4 linked regions of the Homo sapiens genome follow. The protein of the gene in region 1 purifies or fractionates together with the protein of each later gene. This does not show direct contact. Each region holds a gene or a part of one and is shown in the gene's direction. Other genes may lie near its edges.

Evidence for each region. Proteins that work in one complex are often made in the same cells at the same time.
Region 2: the proteins of GSR (region 1) and USP46 purify together in Homo sapiens (co-immunoprecipitation; one large-scale study listed by IntAct). This does not show direct contact.
Region 3: the proteins of GSR (region 1) and GINS2 fractionate together in Homo sapiens (co-fractionation; one large-scale study listed by BioGRID). This does not show direct contact.
Region 4: the proteins of GSR (region 1) and GAB2 purify together in Homo sapiens (co-immunoprecipitation; one large-scale study listed by IntAct). This does not show direct contact.

Annotation. Positions count from the first base shown.
Region 1 is NC_000008.11:30,686,347-30,689,846, reverse strand, and holds part of GSR (glutathione reductase, mitochondrial isoform 1 precursor), read left to right. Parts: intron 1-527; coding exon 528-686; intron 687-3,500. UniProt on the Homo sapiens protein: Catalyzes the reduction of glutathione disulfide (GSSG) to reduced glutathione (GSH). Constitutes the major mechanism to maintain a high GSH:GSSG ratio in the cytosol.
Region 2 is NC_000004.12:52,624,802-52,628,301, reverse strand, and holds part of USP46 (ubiquitin carboxyl-terminal hydrolase 46), read left to right. Parts: intron 1-138; coding exon 139-352; intron 353-2,054; coding exon 2,055-2,284; intron 2,285-3,500. UniProt on the Homo sapiens protein: Deubiquitinating enzyme that plays a role in behavior, possibly by regulating GABA action. May act by mediating the deubiquitination of GAD1/GAD67.
Region 3 is NC_000016.10:85,675,698-85,678,954, reverse strand, and holds the end of GINS2 (DNA replication complex GINS protein PSF2), read left to right. Parts: intron 1-288; coding exon 289-415; intron 416-617; coding exon 618-743; 3' UTR 744-2,757; downstream 2,758-3,257. UniProt on the Homo sapiens protein: Required for correct functioning of the GINS complex, a complex that plays an essential role in the initiation of DNA replication, and progression of DNA replication forks.
Region 4 is NC_000011.10:78,407,821-78,411,320, reverse strand, and holds part of GAB2 (GRB2-associated-binding protein 2), read left to right. Parts: intron 1-3,500. UniProt on the Homo sapiens protein: Adapter protein which acts downstream of several membrane receptors including cytokine, antigen, hormone, cell matrix and growth factor receptors to regulate multiple signaling pathways.

The DNA of each region.
Region 1 (3,500 bases):
AATATGCATATGTTTATTTTACATATATAAATATATTTATATATAAATATACGTATATTTATTTTATATATATATGTGTGTGTGTATATATATATATATACACACACACACGTATATACCCAGGGAGAGGCACTAATTGTGCAGTTTTGAAAAGTTTCCTAGTGATGCTGCCGTGGCCTACTTTCAAAGCACTATGCTTAGGTTTACCACTTAAAATGTTATTACATTTTTCCAGAAGTACACTTTAAAATACTTTGTTTTTAAAGTGAGGCATTACAATGGTGTCATGAGCTGACATTCCCAGCCACTGACTGGAAGATTTGGGTCAACCCAGGGAACAGGCTTGGTTTAAGGGAGTTCAAGTGTTGGTGGCCTTTGGGTAAAAGTTTATGTCTATCTTTGTATGTGGGATTCAGTAGGGATTTTCTTTAATGTTAAAAATTCTAGTTTCCTCTGTATTTGCTTTCCTTCTTCCCCTGTCCTCCCTGAGCCTCCACACATGTGTAACACATTTTATTTGCCAATAGGTCAAGGAGGTTAAAAAGACTTTGTCGGGCTTGGAAGTCAGCATGGTTACTGCAGTTCCCGGTAGGCTACCAGTCATGACCATGATTCCAGATGTTGACTGCCTGCTCTGGGCCATTGGGCGGGTCCCGAATACCAAGGACCTGAGTTTAAACAAACTGGTAAGCTGGCTTGGTCTGCCCGAAACATTTGTGAATCTACTAGGAGTCTTATGGTTTTATTTTCCCCCCAGACACCCAAAACTTGGGTGGATTCCATTGGATTCTTTTCTCTTTTTCCCATGTATTCAGTTTGTGATCAAATTTCATTGCTTCTTCCTTTGAAATTAAAAAAAAAAGTTTTCTCTTCTCTTCTTTCCTTTTCCTTTCTTTTCTGTTTTTGTTTTTTTCTTTTTGTTTTTGAGAAAGGTCTTGCTCTGTCACCCAGGCTGGAGTTCAGTGGTGTGATCATAGCTCACCGCAGTCTTAACCTCCTAGGCTCAAGTGATCCACCCACCTCAGCTTCTGGAGTAGATGGAACTATGTGTGTGCCACAATGCCCAGCTAATTTTTTTATTTTTATTTTTTTTAGAGATGAGGTTTCACCATGTTGCCCAGGCTGGTCTCCTCGGCTCAAGCGATTCGCCCATCTCAGCCTCCCAGAGTGCTGGGACTATAGGCATGTCCCAGCATGTCCCAGAAAAAGGCCGCCACGTCTGGCCTTTTTCTTTTTTGTTTTCTTTCCTTTTTTTTTTTTTTTTTTTTGAGACAGGGTCTTGCTTTGTCACCCAGGCTAGTGTACAGTGGCATGATCATAGCTCACTGCAGTCTTGAATTCCTGGGGTCAACTGATCCTTCTGCCTCAGCTTCCCAAGTAGCTGGAGCTACAGGAATGTGCCACCACACCTGGCTAATTTTTAAGTTTTCTGTAGAGATGGAGTCTTACTATGTTGCCCAGGCTGCTCTTGAACTCCTGGCCTCAAGTGATCCTTCCACCTCGGCCTCCCAAAGTGCTCGGATTATAAACATGAGCCTCCATGCCCAGCCGGCCTGCCACCTCTAACCTAGTTTCCTATTGGCCTCCCTCTTACAGACTTCGTTTTTGCTATGTGAATGTCTCTTTCAAGTCCTATGCTGATCTTTTAGCATCTGTAGTAGGTAATCCAGATTGCTGGGTGGGTAACTGTCTTGTACATTGTACACAGGGATGGGAACAGATGTGAAGCTGTCTCTCTTGGCTCTACCCGTGCTGTCTGTATTTGTGGACAGTTGGCATTCTTACTTGTTCTTTTAAATGTTGAAGTAAAATCTAGAATGGGAGCTTGGGGTTTGGTTCCCAGAGTTTGACCCAAATTTGAACCTTAGTTCTTACAACATAACAGTTGCATGGCTTTGAGCAAGCAGCTTAATTTCTCTGCTTCAAGTGGTTCATATTCACAATGGGAATGAAAAAAGTTCTTGCCTCATTGGGTTATACAGAAGAGTAAATGAAAAAGTGCATGCAAAGTAATTTATAACTGAGACCCTAGCTTACATTATGAACACAATGAATGTTCACCTGCTATTGATAATGATGATGATTTTTCTGATATGCTATACTACTCTATTAGTAATAATAGGATATTTTATGTTTGAGGTGCATATATTTATTTTGTTCTGGGTTTTTTTGTTTGTTTGTTTGTTTGTTTGTTTGTTTTGAGACAGAGTCTTGCCGTGTTGCCCAGGCTGGAGTACAGTGTTGTGATCTAGCTCACTGCAACCTCTGCCTCCTGGGTTCTAGCGATTCGCCTACCTCAGCCTCCCGAGTAGCTGGGATTCCAGGCGTGTACCACCACGCCCGTCGAATTTTTGTATTTTTTTAATAGAGACAGGATTTCACCATGTTGGCCAGGCTGGTCTCGAACTCCTGACCTCAGGTGATCCACCCACCGTGGCCTCTCAAAGTGCTGGGATTACAGGCGTAAGCCACTGCGCCCAGCCTGAGGCGTATATATTTGATAGAGCTGCTTGAGCAGTGTATACCTTTTGACTTATGTTCTAATACTAAGTTCCTGTTGTAATGTGGATTCCTTTTCTGTTTCTGTAAAAGGTCATTTTTCTGCATGTTAACTTATAAAATATTCAGGGAGATGTTTTGATTGTTTGTAATCTTATTCAATGACATTTAGTAAAATTAATTGCCTATTTTCATATTAACAAAACTAGTCAGCCAGGCGCCGTGGCTCACACCTGTAATCCCAGCTCTTTGGGAGGCTGAGGCGGGTGGATCACCTGAGGTCAGGAGTTCGAGACCAGCCTGGGCAACGTGGTGAAATGCCGTCTCTACTAATAATACAAAAATTAGCCAGGCATGGTGACGCATGCCTGTAATCCCAGCTACTTGGGAGGCTGAGGCAGGAGAATCGCTTGAACCCAGGAGGCTGAGGTTGCAGTGAGCCGAGATCACGCCATTGCACTCCAGCCCTGGCAACAAAAGCAAAACTCCGTCTCAAAAAAAAAAAACCAAAAAAAAACACCAAAAGAAAACAACAACAACAAAAAACTGGTCATTCAGCTTTTCACCTTTCAAGAGATATTTTGCCATTGTACAGATGTAAGCACTGATAGGTCCAGTTTTCAACTAAATTTGCTAACTTTTTTTGGGGGGGTTGGATAGGGTCTTGCTCTGTCACCTAGGCTGGAGTACAGTGGTGCCATCATGGCTCACTGCATCCTTGCAGCATCAAACTCCTGGGCTCAAGCCATCCTTCTACCTTAGTCTCCCAAGTAGTAGGAACTACAGGCGTGGTCCACCACACCTGGCTAATTTTTAAAAAAAATTTTTGTAGACACAAGGTCTCGCTGTATTACCCAGGCTAATTTTGAACTGGGCTCAAGCGATCCTTCCACCTCAGCTTCCCAAAGTGCTGGGATTACAGGCATGAGCCATTGCACCCAGCCTATATTTGCTAAATTTTTGAAGAATGAGGCAAAAAAAAAAGGTTCAGTCTCATTTGA
Region 2 (3,500 bases), on another chromosome or scaffold:
TAATATGGTGAGCTGGACTCCAATACAGGGACATCCAGGCCAGTTCACGGAGCAGGGACCTTCTCACCCTCACCACTTATTCCAGAGGTGGCTCATCCCCAGGCAATGACTTGAGCCATCCCTCTTGTCCCTTGGCAGTTTGGAAACACATGCTACTGTAACTCCGTGCTTCAGGCATTGTACTTCTGCCGTCCATTCCGGGAGAATGTGTTGGCATACAAGGCCCAGCAAAAGAAGAAGGAAAACTTGCTGACGTGCCTGGCGGACCTTTTCCACAGCATTGCCACACAGAAGAAGAAGGTTGGCGTCATCCCACCAAAGAAGTTCATTTCAAGGCTGAGAAAAGAGAATGGTGAGTAGTATGCAGTATAATGTATTTAAGCCTCTGAAATAAGGAGAATTGATGGTTCTGTATCTCCTCAAAAGGAAGAGCTGGCATTTTTTTGAAAAGGGAAAATAAGCATGGTTAACTACTCGGTGTCATTTTTTAAGAAACAACATTTCTTCTCTGCCCAGTAAACTTAAAACAAAACTGGGTTAGAAACATGCTTAAAAACGCACATTTATTATTCCAATTTAGAATGACCATTTTATTTGCTCCATTCTGGGCAGGATCATTGTAAGAGAGAATAGTGTCCAAGGCAGCCTTCGGAGTGGGATACTCATTGGCCTAAATTGGTTGATGCAATAATTAAATAAAATAGTACTGGCTTATAAACTTGTCATAGGTGATTAAAATAAGTGCCTGTTATCTAATCAGAGCCTCTGCTGTTTTAAATACAATACCTCTGATTTTCATTTGCCTGAGGTAATTGAAGGATATCAAATTGATTGCTTTATATGGTTTTTAAAAGTCCTGATTTTTCTGGTTTTTCTATCTTCTTCTTCTGGGGGATTGGTAGTAGAAACTAGGTGTGTATTCCAGAAGTTTTGTATTGGCAGTTTTTATGACTATAAAGATATTTGTTATGGCAATTACTATTTATCTTAGATTCAGCCTTACTTCATCAGACGTGCATGGTTAATCAGGTATTTGTTTTATAAAGTCTCTTTTAATTTGATTGCTGTATTTTGAAGTTACAGTTTATACATACCAGATTAAAACTAATTTCAGTGGAGAAGGAAGCAGAGCACTCTGTCGAGTTGTGAACGTGATTAATAATGAAGGTTCACAGCTGCATTCATCTCTGATTGTTTGTCCTTATGGCAGGGAGCAGCACTAGGCTTCTGGAATCATTTGTATTTGGTTTCGGAACACTATCAGATAGATGCTTGCTCACACATACCCTCATCTCCCTTCTGTGTTTCATCTAAGCTGCTTCCAGGCTGGTCCAGGGTTTAATATGATCTTTGGGAGGACACCCCAGTTGCTCTGAATAAATTACCCAATGAATAATTAATTGATCATTGGTAGTTACATCATATTAAAAATTGATATTTTATCAGGGAACTTATCTGATAACTTCTGTTCCTTTGTAGAACAAATAGAACTTTTGGTAGTTTTATATAAATGTGATGACTTTAGGGAGATACGGGAAATTTTGTTCTTGGTGCATGGCAGAAAATGGAAATGAATTAAAAAAGCTCTTTGGAAACTTACTCATTGAAGCTGCCTGGTAGAGATGAGTATATTTATATTCCATACCTGTCCATCCTTTCAATATAAAAGTTGAAGTATGGGCCAGGCGCGGTGGCTCACGTCTGTAATCCCGGCACTTTGGGAGGCCAGGGTGGGCAAATCACAAGGTCAAGAGATTGAGACCATCCTGGCCAACATGGTGAACCTGGTCTCTACTAAAAATACAAAAATTAGCTAGCTGGGTGTGGTGGCATGCACCTGTAGTCCAGCTACTCAAGAGGCTGAGGCAGGAGAATTGCTTGAACCTGGGAGGCAGAGGTTGCAGTGAACTGAGATCATGCCACTACGCTCTAGCCTGGCGACACAGCGAGACTCCATCTCAAAAAAAAAATATTTAAGTATGGCATGTAACACTAATTACATCCATTTGCTTTTCAAGAACCAGAGACTGAAATAACCACCTTCTCCTTTCCAGATCTCTTTGATAACTACATGCAGCAGGATGCTCATGAATTTTTAAATTATTTGCTAAACACTATTGCGGACATCCTTCAGGAGGAGAAGAAACAGGAAAAACAAAATGGAAAATTAAAAAATGGCAACATGAACGAACCTGCGGAAAATAATAAACCAGAACTCACCTGGGTCCATGAGATTTTTCAGGGAACGCTTACCAATGAAACTCGATGCTTGAACTGTGAAACTGTAAGTACTAGGGGAGCTCTTATGTAGCTCGCATGTTCATATTTATGTACGCTATGTTGCATGTGATTGCAATGTCGTATTATAGCATTTAGCAGTTATTTGCAGTGTATGTAAATAATCCTATTTATGCATATGAAACTCAAGTACAAACTTTTGGAAGCACATATCCATCCAGGATGTCTCAGCAGGCCAAAGCTGAATAATAAAGGAAAATCTCCTCAAATGCTGAATTGCTTTACACCATGGGGAAATTTTGGGGTCTACAGATTTAATCTATTGAATTGGATGTCAACCAGTTACCTTGCAAAGATTTTGGTCATGGGGAGGTCTTGTGTGATGTAGAACAGGACCATCACCCCAGTTTAGAGGCAGTCAGCTGTGGTATGTTGAACTTGAAGTCAGAAGACAGGCTAGACTCCTGTTTTTACAGCAGTTAACTGGGTATTTGGGGCGAGTTACTTACAGCACTGTTTTGAGGGTTGGATGAGCTTATGTGTTTGGATGGGTCTGACACATGGTAGGTACATAATGTTAATTGAATTTGAAGACATGTTCTCCAGAGCATGATTCAGGATGTCATATTTTCTTGGCATGTTTAACTTCAACTCTGTGGGTGGCCTCATATTTTGCTGCTTAAGAGCTGAGCTCTGGAGCCAGGCTGCCCAAGTTTGTATGCTGGCTTTTCTGCTTGTTAGCTAGTGGAACCTGTGCAAATTATTAATCTTCTCTGTCCTCACTTTCTTCATCTATAAAATAGGGATGATGAGAATGCCCATCTTGGAGGGTTGGTGGGAGGATTAAATGAGTTGACACCTAGAGCCATGCTTGGCACATGGCAAGTAGGCAATAAATGTCAGGTATTATTTTTTATTATAACTACTACTGACAGCATAGAAAGTCTATGGGTTCATTAAGGATCTCAGAGTTTCCTGACATTGTATGGAAAATTCTATAAGATTGTGCATTTTTCTGGAAAGAGAGGTAGTAGCTTTTGTCAGATTTTGCAAAGAGCCTGTGTCTTAGTCTGGTCTGCTACAACGCAATCCCTCATGAGTTGCTTAAACAACAGAAATTCATTTCTCACAGTTCTGGAGGCTGAAAGTCCCAGATGAAGGTGCTAGCAGGGTCAGGTTCTTGGTGAGGACCTTCTTTCTGCCTTGCAGACAGCTGTCTTCTGGCTGTGTCCTCACTTGGTGGAGATAGAGAAAGCAAGCTC
Region 3 (3,257 bases), on another chromosome or scaffold:
GGCTTCTGACTTAGAGCTGATTCTCTACTAATTTTCTTAGGTAAACAGCAGTCCTGTTCAGCAGCCTGCCATGGGATAGTTAATGTGAGCAAAAGAAACTCCATGTGGATCACTGCCGCACCAAGCTTAACTGCTACAAATCTTTACACCCTAAAGTTGAAAATAAAGCAAAACAGACTTTCTGAGTCTGGAATAGCCACGGTATTTTGCCTGAAAAGAGCCACTCTATCCAGCATTGCCTCAGGTTATCAAGTGTTCCCCGACTGACTTTAGCCCTTGCTCCTTTAGTGCTTCAGACAACATCCCGAAGGCAGACGAAATCCGGACCCTGGTCAAGGATATGTGGGACACTCGTATAGCCAAACTCCGAGTGTCTGCTGACAGCTTTGTGAGACAGCAGGAGGCACATGCCAAGGTAGGTGCCGCCTTGCCTGGGTGCTGGTGGCCTTGATGCCGCATAATTTCACATGGCTCCCGTCTGCTGAGGCTATTACAGGCAGGCATTACTAGCTGTGCTTTTCAACAGTTCATTGGTTTCTTATTTTTATTCAGTAGAGTTTACCTTTTTCTCAAAATCAAAAACTCCTTGGCCAACTTGGTCTGTTTTCTTGCTTTAGCTGGATAACTTGACCTTGATGGAGATCAACACCAGCGGGACTTTCCTCACACAAGCGCTCAACCACATGTACAAACTCCGCACGAACCTCCAGCCTCTGGAGAGTACTCAGTCTCAGGACTTCTAGAGAAAGGCCTGGTGCAGGCGGCTTGCTGGGGGATGTGAGCGCTCAGGACGTGATGAGGTACTCGTGGTTCTGGAGCTCTAGAAACACTTCTGATGCATGAAAAATGTGTGATGGTGCAAGGAATGGATTCAGGATGTTGTTGGAGAAACAAGTTTGTGATTAGTCCTTAAAACTTAGCTCCCTGGGACATTCTTCAATTCCACATCTGTTTCTAGAAACCAGCCCTTTTTCCCCCCACTTTTGAGAAATAAAAAAGCCTTAGGTAAATAAGTCATTCTCCCTAGCAGAGCCACTTGGGTCTCCTGCATGGAAGCCATCACACTTGGGCAGGTGTTCAGTGACTGGTAGGTGTAGATACAGCAGGAGTGGCCATGTGGTCCACGGCTTTTTACCCCTTCTTGATCCTGATTTCTTGGGCTGAATTTAGACTCTCTCACAGAGGTGGCTCACAGAGAAGGATGGCAGATGGTGCAGCCAACAATGCTGACCGGTGCTTATCCTCTAAGCCCTGATCCACAATAAAAATGGACCCAACTCAGCTCTGACTCTCTAGGTTTTTGTGCTGCGTAACTACCAAGTAAAAGGACTGAGCCTGTGGCTGAGATGACTCAGTCAACGAAACTGAGGCACACGGCAGTTAAGTGGAAACTGCAGACCAACACCTGGGGTGTCTCCTTCTCTTGGCTACTTCTAGCTCAGGTTTAATGGGTTGCTTATCAAGAGGAGAGTCAGGAAAAAAACGAATCCAATGTATTGAGCATGAGTGACAATGTATTGAGCATGAGTGACAATGCTAGAAGAAAAGTCACTTTCAGTGCTGCTCTTGATGGATTTGGGGAAGGATTCTTTGTTGTAGGTAACAGTGGGCTCAGGGGAAATTATTTTTTTCCTAAGAGAAAATTACTTTATTCGTAGCATTTTGGAAATGTTAGGACCTTTACAGAAATTACATTACCTTGAGAGGTGAAATGATCGTCCAGCATCATGCAATGGATAGAAGGTTCTGTAATCAGCTTTAAAAAAAACTTTAATTTTTGGCCGGGCACATTGGCTTGGCTCATGCATGTAATCCCAGCACTTTGGGAGGCCAAGGCAGGTGGATCACAAGGCCAGGAGATTGAGACTATCCTGGCTAACATGGTGAAACCCCGTCTCTATTAAAAATACAAAAAAAAAAAAATTTGCCAGGTGTGGTGGCACACGCCTATAGTCGCAGCTACTCGGGAGGCTGAGGCAGGAGAATCGCTTGAACCCGAGAGGCGGAGGTTGTAGTGAGCCAAGATTGCACCACTGTACTCCTGCCTGGGCAACGAGAGCAAGACTCTGTCTCAAACAAAAAAAATTTTAACTTTTTTTTTAGACAGGGTCTCGTTCTGTCATCCAGGCTGCAGTAGAGTGGCGTGATTATAGCTCACTGCAGCCTCGAACTCCTGGGTTCACACAGTTCTCCCACCACAGCCTCCCAAAGCACTGGGATTGCAAGCATGAGCCGCCATGCCTGGCCAGCCTATTTTTGGCTGGACACCAGTGGGCCAAAAGCAGTGGGGTGCTGTCTGGGGAGCTCTGAGAATGCGCATGTGTGACAGGCTGAGCCTAAAGACTTATCACCCAGCATCTGCCCTCCAGTGTCTAGCATGCTGCACACTATCACTCCATGTTGCTGCCCACGTGTCCCCGCCAGGCAGGTTTTGGTGGTTATTTGGACACTGAAGGGTCAGACCTGGAAGACTGGGACCAAAAGATGAGGTCTCCATAATTTAAGGTGCTGTTCAGACTTGGTTCAGCTCATAGGACTTGTTCTTTCATCTCAGCCTTCCTTGGAATCCTCCTGCTTTCATCTGGGGATCTTTTAGAATGAAACCACTTGTTATTGTGGAGGGCAAGGGGTCCTAATGCCCTCCTCTTAGAGCCTGAGCCAGTGGAGGCAGCTCCGTCTGCGGAGATGTATAGTTATTGAGCTTTTCTTTGTTTGGCTTTGTTTTATATCATAAAAAAGATTTTCCTCTTAACATAATTTAGGAAGATTTTATTTTTTGGATGTTGTCAGAAATTACAGCAATATATTCATAAATACCTAATTACTACATTCAACAAATAATATTACAATACAATTAATTCAAACAAGTACACTTAGAACAGGTTTAATTTCACAGCATCTAAACTGCCCCCAGAGTGACCGAGGCACCGGTGTTCCTCCCTCCCACCTGCGTATGGGGTTTACTGTTATAGAATTAAGCACAGGGTACATACAAAATAACACCAGTTAGCATGGTCTTCCTCAGGTCAAGGCAGAGTTAAGGAGTTTTTTAGGTTAAGCACTGGATGGAAAAGTTGGGGACAGGCTACTGCAAGTAGTAAGAAAGTCAACAGCTTGGTTACTTGAAAGAATATAGAGATTGCTAAGTGGCTAATATACACTTTAAAGAGGAACAGAATCGGTTTGTGCTGACCATCTCCATCTTGTGGTGGATCCCTGGCATTTTCTACACTTGTGTGAAACATGTGGCTCAGGGA
Region 4 (3,500 bases), on another chromosome or scaffold:
TGAGATTTTAATAGGAAGTGCATTAATCCTGTGTACCAATTTGGGAAGAAATTACAGCTTTACTATATTAAATCTTCCAGTCCATGAATTTATTTTACATTTATTTATATATGTCTTTCTTCCTTCGTTTATTTTCTTCTCCTTCCACCATCCCCCCCCCCAACCACCCCCACCAGAATCTTGCTGTGTCACACAGGCTGGCGACAGTGGCACAATCATGGCTCACTGCAGCCTCAAATTCCTGGGCTCAGGTGATCCTACTGTCTCAGCCTCCCAAGTAATTGGGACGACAGCTGCGTACTGCTGTGCCTGGCTAATTTTTTTTTTTATTATTTGTAGAGACAGGGTCTCCCTGCGTTGCCCAGGCTGGTCTCACACTCCGGAGCTTAAGCAGTCCTCCCACCTTGGCTTCCCAGAGTGCTGCGATTATAGGTGTGAACCACCATGTCTAGCCTTCTGGAAGAGATGGTGTAGAACTGGTATAATTCTTTAAACCTTTGGTAGAATTCTCCAGATTAAACCATCTGGATCTGGAAATGTCTTTGTTAGGAATTTTTTACATTTTTAATCCAATTTCTTTAATAGATACGGGGTTCTTCAAATTATCTACTTCATATTGGCTGAATTATAGAAGTTTACATTTTTCAACAAATTGGTCCATTTTGTCTAAGTTGTTACATACATGTGAGTGGAGTTACAGTATCCTGTATTATGCTTTCAGTGTCTGCAGGGTCTGTAGTGGGTCCACTGCTTTATTTTTTTAACCCTTATTCTTGCATACTGACATTGCTTCATTATTATTTTTTGTTTGTTTTTTGAGACAGCATGTCACTCTGTCACCTGGGGTGGAGTGCAATGGCACGATCTCAGCTCACTACAACCTCCACCTCCCAGGTTCCAGCAGTTCTCCTGCCTCAGCCTCCCGAGCAGCTGGGATTGCAGGCATGTGCCACAATGCCCAGCTGATTTTTGTATTTTTAGTAGAGACAGGGTTTCACCATATTGGCCAGGCTGGTCTCAAACTCCTGACCTTAAGTGATCTGCCTGCTTTGGCCTCCCAAAGTGCTGCAATTACAGGCATGAGCCGCTGCACCTGGCCTCTGATTTTTTTATATAGTAGTTTATTCATTTGAGACTTTTCCTCTTATTTAATGTATTCATTTACTGCTATGAATTTCCCTCTCAGCACTGCTTTAGCTGTGTCCCACTAATTTTGATAAATTGCATTTTCAATTTTTATTTGCTCAGTATATATATATTTTTTTTACTTTCCTTGAGACTTTCCTCTTTGACCATGGATTATTTACAAGTACATTGTTTAGTTTCCAAATGTTTGGAGATTTTCCCATTATTTTTCTGTTTCTGTCTTTTAGTTGGAATTCATTGTGGGAGTAGAGTAAGTTCTATTTGATTTCAATTATTTTTAACTTGTCAAGGTTTATTTTATTGCTGAAAATGTGGTCTATCTTGCTTTAGGTTCCATGGGTACTTTGAAAAGAATGTTTATTCTGCTATTATTGGGTAAAGTATTCCATAAATGTCAATTATATCTTTTTGATTGATAGTGATATATATAATTCTTTTATATCCTTGCTGATTTTTCTATCTAGTTCTTCTGTCGATTGTTGAGAGACAGGGGTTGAAGTTTCCAACTATAATTGTGAATATTTCTGTTTCTCATTTCACTTATATCTGTTTTTGTTTCACATATTTTATTTTTTTTATTATTTTTTTGGAGATGGAGTTCCGCTGTTGTTGCCCAGGCTGGAGGTGCAATAGCATGATCTCAGCTCTCCGCAACCTCCACCTCCTGGGTGCAAGCAATTCTCCTGCCTCAGCCTCCCAAGTAGTTGGGATTACAGGCATGCGCCACCACACCCGGCTAATTTTGTATTTTTAATAGAGACAGGGTTTCTCCATGTTGGCCAGACTGGTCTCGAACTCCTGACCTCAGGTCATCCGCCTGCCTCGGCCTCCCAAAGTGCTGGGATTACAGACATGAGCCACCGCACCCAGCCCTGTTGTTCAATATATACACATTTAGAATTGCAACATCTTCTTGGTGGCATGACCCTTTTATCTTTATATAATACCTGCTGAGTCTCTGGTAATTTCTTTTGCTCTGAGGTCTACTTGTTATCTGATATATTATACAAGTATCTGAGGGCTACTTGATATATTATAGCCTATATCTGATGATATAGTTATTCTTGCTTTCCTTTTATTGATATTCACATGATACATCTTTTCCATCAATTTACTTTCAACCTACCCATATCATTGTATTTGAAGTGATATCTTATAGGTGGCATATTGTTGGGGTGTATTAATCCGTTCTCGCACTGCTGTAAAGAACTACCTGAGACTGGGTAATTTATCAAGAAAAGAGGTTTAATTGGCCCACAGTTCCACAAGCTGTACAGGAAGCATGGCTGGGGAGGCCTCAGGAAACTTACAGTCATGGCGGAAGGTGAGGGAGAAGCAGGCACATCTTACATGGCTGGAGCAGGAGGAAGAGAGTGAGGGGAGAGGTACTACACACTTCTAAATAACCAGATCTCACAATAACTCACTCACTATCATGAGAACAGCACCAAAGGGGAACTCCACCTCCATAATCCAATCATTTCCCATCAGGCCCCACCTCCAATATTTGGGGATGACAATTTGACCTCAGATTTGGGCAGGGACACATACCCAAACCATATCATGGGGCATGTTTTTAATCCACTGTGCTGATTTATGTCTTAATTGGTATATTTAAATTTACACTTAATATAATTTCTAATATGCTAGAGCTTAGTTCTGCCACTTTATTTTTTGTTTGTGTTCTGTTTTTGTTTTCTTCTTGCCTTCCTGTGAGTTTCTTGAATATTTTTTAGAATTCCATTTTGATTTATCTATATAGTGTTTTTGAGTGTATCTCTCTATACAGCTTTTTTAGTGGTTGCTCTAGGTATTATACTGTACATACAACAGTCAGTTGGTGTCGTCTTATAATCTAAATGAAGTCTGTATCATCATTTTACAAGTTTAAGTAAAGTATAGTAACCTTACCTCCCTTTATGTCCTTTTGCCATCCTCCATATATAATTGTCTTAAATATTTTTTTTATATCAGACAGTGCTATAATTTTTGCTTCAGTCATTAAACCTAATTTAGAAAACTCAGAAGGAAAGACTATTTAATTACATTTTTGTTTACTATGTGCTTTCTTCTTTGCTGATGTTTTCAGGTTCCTCTTTTTTTCATTTCCTTTCTGTTTAGAGAACTTCCTTTAGCCATTCTTTAGGGTAGATTGGCCAGTGATAAATTGTCTTTATTTTCCTTCACCTGAGAAGGTCTCATTTTCCCCTTCATTCTGATATTTTCACTGGATATTGAATTATTTAGTTGACACTTCTTTTCTTTGAGCACCTGTAAAATACTGCATCCTTTCCTTCTGGCCTGCATGGTTTCTAATGAAAAATCCATGGTCTTTCCAATTGCTTTCCCTCAGG